Homo sapiens: one gene and its partner. The gene in region 1 interacts genetically with each later gene. Each region holds a gene or a part of one and is shown on either strand. Other genes may lie near its edges.

What was found.
Region 2: changes in RNGTT (region 1) and TCOF1 together harm fitness more than expected from each alone (negative genetic interaction), as found in Homo sapiens cells (one large-scale study listed by BioGRID).

The regions. Positions count from the first base shown.
Region 1 is NC_000006.12:88,848,578-88,852,400, forward strand, and holds part of RNGTT (mRNA-capping enzyme), read right to left. Parts: intron 1,250-3,823; coding exon 1,178-1,249; intron 1-1,177.
Region 2 is NC_000005.10:150,378,183-150,382,005, reverse strand, and holds part of TCOF1 (treacle protein), read right to left. Parts: intron 3,102-3,823; coding exon 2,964-3,101; intron 2,778-2,963; coding exon 2,598-2,777; intron 2,475-2,597; coding exon 2,274-2,474; intron 1-2,273.

The DNA of each region.
Region 1 (3,823 bases):
ATCTTGTTGAGCAAAGGTCAGCAAAGGTATAGTACAATAACATTTATATAACACCAGAAACCTTGCAAAAGAATATCATATATATTTCATGGATACACACATAGGTAGTAAAAGTATCTGAAACATTCATGGGAACAATAAACACACCAAATTCAGGGTAGAGGCTGATTCTGGGCAAGAGATTTGAGATTAGGAGAGAGGTGTAACTAAGAAACTTCTATTGGATTCGTAATGAATCATGTCTTATTAAAAAGAAAGTGGACCAAAAGTATGAAGTTTTAACAAATCTAGCTGGTCAGTACATGAGTATTCCTTACATTATTTTTCAGACTCTTCTATATGGTGAAATTTTTCATATTTTTAAAAAGTATTAGAAAACTGCTATCTAAGAGACAGTACTCAGCTAAGAAGTGAGAGTAAGCCCAGACTGAACATGTATTAAAGCAGAGCTCAGTGTCAAGAAGTAAAGGAGACAGAACTTCCCTACTCACAAAGAAACAAAGCCACCCCGCCACCCCTTATGTCTAGTTATAGGCCAATGAATGTTATTCCAAGATCTGTGATGAGATTAAGCCAGTTCTGGAAAGCAGTACTTATGAGGAATACAGTCAAACAGAACAAAATAAAACTTGATGTTTTCTGGCCCTGAGGCTCTTAAATTTGAAGTTCTTTGTTTTAAATACAGAATTTCAATCAAAAAATTAGATGTGTGCATTAAAAATGTCCAGAAAAAAATGTCTTTTAATAACCTGGATTAATGCAATCCTGAATTAATACTGCAATTTATTACCCATTCAACAGCTCATAATCAGTTTCTCTTTTGTTTTGTTGCTGTTTTGGTGACAGAAATAAACTCATGAGATTTAAAAGAAAAAAGTACAGGATAATTAAAATCAGAAATGTTCATTTTATGAAATGCTGTCTTATTTTATCAGAGTTATGCCATTATTCTTTACTCACTTGCAAGTTAAAGAAACCTAAAACAAAGAAATGTGTGAAAATTAACAATAAGAGAAAGAAAAGGAGATATAAAAGGATTAAAAAAAAGATTCCCAGTGAGTAACCTGAGTCACAAATTTTCTTTCCTACTATCTCTAAGGCAGCACCAAAGACTATTGTCAAAAATACATTCATTATTTCAGTAATAACTTGTATTTTATAAATTATAGGTACTTACATTGAATTTAATTATGTCATATATCAAATATCTAGGAACAGCCTGTCCATTTACTCTGTCAATAATCATCTCCTTGAAAGAGAAAAGAAGGTAAGTTTCTTCATACTTTAATAACAATTTTTTTTAATTTAATTGAAATATGGCATACACACAGTAAGCACATAAACCATAAATATACAACTTGATGAAATTTCAAAGTGAACACACTTGTACCCAGATCATATCAATAAACTGTTAGCCCCCCATCCCCATCATGCATTTATTCTATACTGAAATAGAATCACCTGACAATATCTCATCATATTTTTCATATTTGAATTTCCATGCTACATTTTGCTTTATGCTTGAATTACTAAGTGACAATTAAGGGTAGGAAGACTACAAATTTTAAATTCTAAACGTCAGGATCTTTTTTAAAAATATTTTTGTTTAATCATTAATGCTTTAAATTTTGTTATACACCAATTACTTTAATCATAAAATCTATGACAATAAATGGCATCCTCATTATAGATTTAATTCCCATGTGAGCCATGTGGCCTTTCTTGGTTTCATACCACTTTACTAGGCTTTGTTCAAAGGGAACAGGGCAAGGGAGTATGAACAGATCACTGCAAATCTACCATAGCCATTAAAAAGTCAAAAAAAATGCAGTCTGACAGAACAAGATAAGGACATTAAAGGATGACTACAGGTATAAAATGCAGTATTACTTAAAATTTTAATTATTAATATGTTTTTGACCTAAAATTATTTTTCTTTCCTCATATTCTTACTAGGAAACCAGATAGGTTTTCTTGCTATCTAATTTTATAACAGAAATTCCATGTACAACCATCTAAAATTACAAAAAAAACACACTGATTTAGGAAAAATATATTTTGTTGTTGTAAGAAAGCATTACCTAAGCCTAAGTACAAGGAGTGTAGTTATTTCTACTTGAAGAATAAGAGAAAGTTTGGTAATAAGGTACATGACCATTAGCTGCATCCTGAAAGATGCAGAGTATATTTTCCAGCAGGATAGTGGATAGGCCAAATGGTATAACAAAGGCATGAAATTGTCCAAAGCTGAGTATTTGTGATTAGCAATCACAATCAAAGATGAGACTGAAGACACAGGCACGCTTCAGATATAAAGAATATTATATTGAACAGTTTGGCTTTTGTGCTATGAATAACAGGGAACCACTGAAGGGTTTTCAAAACCTGTGGGCCTTCAAGGCTCATCTCTGTAACTCATTCCTTGAAATCTTTCATATAAGGCTCCCTTGGTTCTAATCATCACAGTCCATATAGGTGATGAAATGTTCTGGAATTAGATAGTGGTCTTGATTTTATGACCTTGTGGAAAAGACTAAAAACCACTAGATTGAACATCTTAAAATAGTGAATTTCATAGTATGTAAATTGTATCTCAATTTTTTTTAAAAAAAGAACTAAATTTAAAAAAAAAAAAAATCCTAAAAGCAGTTCTTCAGATTGAAGAGGAATAACAGAACCCCAGATACATAACATATATTAAATGTCAGCTATATACATATTGGTTATACATGTTATATAATTATTAGCACAACAAAGTTACTAAAAGGATATTTCCTTTTAACATCAAAATATAAAATGTCATCTCTTGATTGTTTATTTTTTCTAAGTTTACAGACTTTCTAAAATTTCAACAATAAGCATGTAGTGTTTTATAAAAAATTAATAGTTGAAAAAGACATGGAATTTTTCCAAAATTCTTGCCATTAACTTTAATGATTAACTGCTATATTCTTATCTTAGTCTCAATATTAAGTTGATTAAATTTCACTGATGTGTTTCAAGTGAATTAATGCAGTATTTCTAAATTCCTATTTTCCACATTTTATAGGTCAAAGAACATAGTTAAGCAAAGCAAAACAAAAGCTTCAATGCTCACATCTGACAGTCAGACAATTAGGTGGTTTGAATTATTCTTGGATTTGGAATTTTACAAAAACAATTTGCACATGAAAATGTAGAAGAAACAGGAAACTACAGGACTGTTTTAATTAACAAAAAAAAACAGATATGGCAACTATAATTCTAGCCCAAGTAAATTGACATCATGAATCATACTGCTATTTTTAAAACTTCACAAGAATCTATTATGCCGCTCTCAGTTATCCAAGTTTGAGGTGAAATAAATAGTATTGCTAAGTTAAATCTGTAGATGGTTAAATATCTAATTTTTAAGCATTATTTCCTACCTAGAATGCCCTCAGCCCACGTCCATCAAAAATCTTTCTATAGAAATCTTTCTGTTTCTAATGCCAACTCCTACACAAAACATATTTAGTTCCTAACTAACTAGATGTGATTTATTTCTCCTCTAAACTACCTCAGGACTTAAATACCTCTCTTTGGGTTATTGTTTTATTCAAAGGTCTCTTCCATCATTACCATTCATTCTCCACCCTGCTCAATTAAGCAAAATGTTTCAAGGGTGAGGCCTTCTCCTCAACCCTCTAAGCAATACCCGTACTCTTGGTATAGCAACTCATAATAGGCACTCAACAAACATTAGTTCAATTATAAACTATACTAAACTTTGACAAATGCTATTACTTAAGTCTTTTCCTTTCTTATATTTTATTAATTATAATGCTAAAAAAAGTACCTTAAA
Region 2 (3,823 bases), on another chromosome or scaffold:
CAGGCTGGTCTTGAACTCCTGACCTCAAGTGATCCGCCTGTCTCAGCCTCCCAAAGTGCTGGGATTACAGGTGTGAGCCACCGTGCCTGGCCTGCCCCCAGCACTTTAGGAGATGCTGCAGCCCTGCTATGACCATAAAGCTAGTGGAGTGCAGAGATGAAGAAATCTGGTTACCACTGACGCTCAGCTAAAGGAACCAGCTTTTCAGCAGCTGGAACCTGGGACTTTGTGCACTTTAAGACAGTCAATCCCCTTATTTAAGCTCTTTTGAATGGGGCTTTCTCCTACAGATTAGGCCATTCTGACTAAGAACTCATTGAAAACTTAAAAACAAAAAAACTACACAGCCCAAAATATGGCCGGGGCCTATGTCTTAGTCTGGCATTTAGGTCCTCCATAAATCTACCAGTAACAAGCACCTGGGAGGGCCTACGGCCTGCAGGACAGCTGCCTTCAGTGACCATGTGCCTTCATGCCCAGCCCCTCTGCACACACTGAGGGGCCTTCTCCACTTTTGTGCCTGGTCATCCTTCAGGTTCAGCTCAATCATCTCCTCCTTTTCTGGCCTCTCAGAGACCTGCTCTTTCAGCTGTCAGCACCACTAGCATAGTCTGCGATAATCCGGTCACCTGTCTTGCCCCACAGACTGTGAGCTCCTTGAGGGTGGGGCCAATGTCTTTCACCCCCAGTAATTGTTGGTTTGGTGTATCAAAGGCAGAGGTTAGGGCTAGGGAGCATTCATCTCAGTGCTTGTTTTACTCATGAAGAAAACAAATCTAAGAGGTTATGGAGCTTGGCCTGGCACAGGGACTTCCAGCTTCCCTTAAGAAATGGAAGACCTGGCCACACAGAAGGTCCATCTCCACAGTCATGACTGGCTGAAGCTGATAAGAACTGCCCCTCTGGATGGGGCAAGGGCTCTCCGGTCTGCCCTACTTGCTACCACTATCTACCATCTCTCCTGACATTTATCATCTCTTTTTTTTATTTTTGTGACAGAGTCTCACTCTGTTGCCCAGACTGGAGTGCAAAGCAATGGCATGATCTTGGCTCACTGCAACCTCTGCTTCCCGGGTTCAAGCGATTCTCCTGCCTCAGCCTCCCGAGTAGCTGGGACTACAGACGCCTGCCATCACGCCTGGCTAATTTTTGTATTTTTTTAGTAGAGACAGGGTTTCACCATGTTGGCCAGGCTGGTCTCGAACTCCTGACCTCATGATCCGCCCGCCTTGGCCTCCCAAAGTGCTGGGATTACAGGCTTGAGCCACCGCACCCGGCCGACATCTATCATTCCTGCCAGGCCTGCATCAGTCATTTCCATCACACACCTGTGCCTTGGCAGTGCTGGAGTTTGTCATCCTACACTTCTGTAGGATGTAGCAAGCCCTGCTATCTTCTGCAAGCAGACAGAGGGAATTGTTCAGATTTTCTTTCTCCCCACTCTCCAGGGTCCAGGCTTTGCACTAAGCTAGACAAGCCCTGCCTGAGAAGATGCGCCTGCCTATGTGAGGCTCCGGGCCAAGGTGCAGGATGAGACTTCCTCCATCTCTCCAGGACCTCAGGGGGACCTGTGCCACACTCCAAGCTTCCCTGGGACTCTGACAGGGAGAGTCATTTTGTATAACGTTAACGTATGCACAATAACTAACATGTAGATTCTTGGTCTCATATGCCTTGGTGGGAAATACTGGCCTAGCTTATAGAGCTGGTGGAGACCTCGACCTAGATATAGACCCAGGACACTTTTAGCTACGGAAGTCTTCGTTTGGGGGGTTTTAGTAGCAGGTTTTACCTAAGGAGATGTGGATGACAGCAGACGGAGGAGGGCATGGTGGAACTGGAGCCTTAAGCCTTAACCTGGCCTTCCTTTCTTTTCCTTACCTGGCCCTAAACCCTGGTTTTTCACTTTTCTTTTTTTTCTTTTTTTTTTTTTTTGAGACAGTCTCACTCTCATCACCCAGGCTGGAGTGCAGTGGCATGATCTTGGCTTGCTGCAGCCTCCGCCTCCCAGGTTCTAGGGATTCTCCTGCCTCAGCCTCCCGAGTAGCTGGGATTACAGGCACCCGCCACCATGCCCAGCTAATTTTTATATTTTTAGTAGAGACGGGGTTTCACCATGTTGGCCAGGCTGGTCTTGAACCCCTGACCTCAAGTGATACATCTGCCTCGGCCTCCCAAAGTGCTAGGATTACAGGTGTGAGCCACCACGCCCAGCCCTATACCCCCGTTCTGAGGAGTGAGTGTTGGTGGCTCAGAGGCCTGGCAAGTCTTACCTGGGCAGAGGTCACAGCTGCCGGTGCCTCCCCATCACTGTCTGATTCCTCGCTGCTGCTCCCTGAGTCATCCTGCTTCCCTGCCTGGGCAGCCGAAGGCCCTGTCTTCCCAGGAGGTGTTGGGGCAGCCCCTTTCCTGGGGGACTCCTTGGCAGGAGCCAAGGCAGCTCTGATCTGGTGGGTCTTCCCTGAAGGCTTCACCTGGAGGGAGAAACAGGATGAGAGGAGAGAGCCTGGAGGGTGGACGTGTGAGAAGACAGGAGCTGGATGTGGCAAAGGTGTTACATCCCATGTAGGGGATGATCTCCATTCCCTCCCCCTCACCTGAGCCAGCGTCTCCGCCTCCTCCTCACTGTCTGACTCCTCCTCACTGCTCCCTGAGTCCTCCTCTGGCCCTGTCTGGGCCTGAGCTGCTGTAGCCACGGCCTTCCCCACAGATGGCACAGATGCTGGGCCCCTCGCCAAGACGGTACTGTTCTGGGGGTTTCTCACTGGTGGCTTCACCTGAATTGCAGGGGGATAATAGTATTGGAGGCAAAAGTGATTCCTTTCAGGTCCCACTCCCCACTATGGCACAACTCTGGGTGGGTGGCCTGCCCATGCACGCACCTTCTCCTGGCTGGGCTCAGTGACTGGTCCTCCTCTCTACCCCAACCCTCCACACCTCCTGTGGCTTCTGGCCCCACTTGCCTTGGATGGAGACCTCTGCTTGGCTTGAGCAGCTGCAGTGACAACTTTTCCAGGGGCTGAAATTGTCCCTTTTGCTGAAGGTGCTCTGGCGGCAGCTGGGTTGGCTTTGGCCTGGGTTTTCTTTACTGAGGTTTTCACCTGAGTGGAGAAAAGGGAATTAAGGAGGGAGAAGGTGAGATTGAGTAAAGCAGCTAGCCAAGAATACAGACTCTGGAGCTGGAGCCCGAGTCTGGATTCTGGCTCCTCCATGCAATAGGCGTGTGAACCTGAGCTCATCACTTGATCTCACTGGGCCTCAGTTCAGTCCTCTATCAAATGGAGATAATAATAAGGCCCACCTACGGGTTATGATGAAGACTAAATAGGAGATTCAGAGTTTAACATGATGTCTGGAACATAATAAACACTCAAACTCATTGTGCGTGCCTTCCTTAGCATTAGCTAAGCACAAGACTACCTAAAACAGATGTTTTCCAGGCTCCCTTTCAGCTAGGTGGCAATGTCATTAAATTCTGGCTCATAGGATGTAAGTTGAGTGCCATAAAAGGTCAGAAACATGTCTCTTCCTCCTCCAGGCTAGATGGAATGCTGAGGTCAGAGCTGGAGCTCAAGCAGCCACGGCAGAACAAGATACTTGTTGTTTAAGGTTTTCTTCAGCTTAATCTAGCCTTAACCGATATCCAGAGAACCCCCAAAAGGCCTGTCAGGGATTCCAACAAATAGAAGGAGAACAAAAAAAAAGGGAAATTCCCAGAGTGAGATCCTTAACAGGAGTGACAGCAAGCCTAATGTGAAACAGAATGAGGACTCTGGCAGCATCTCAAGGCCCCTGCCTCACTCAGGGATGGCATCTGGTCAGT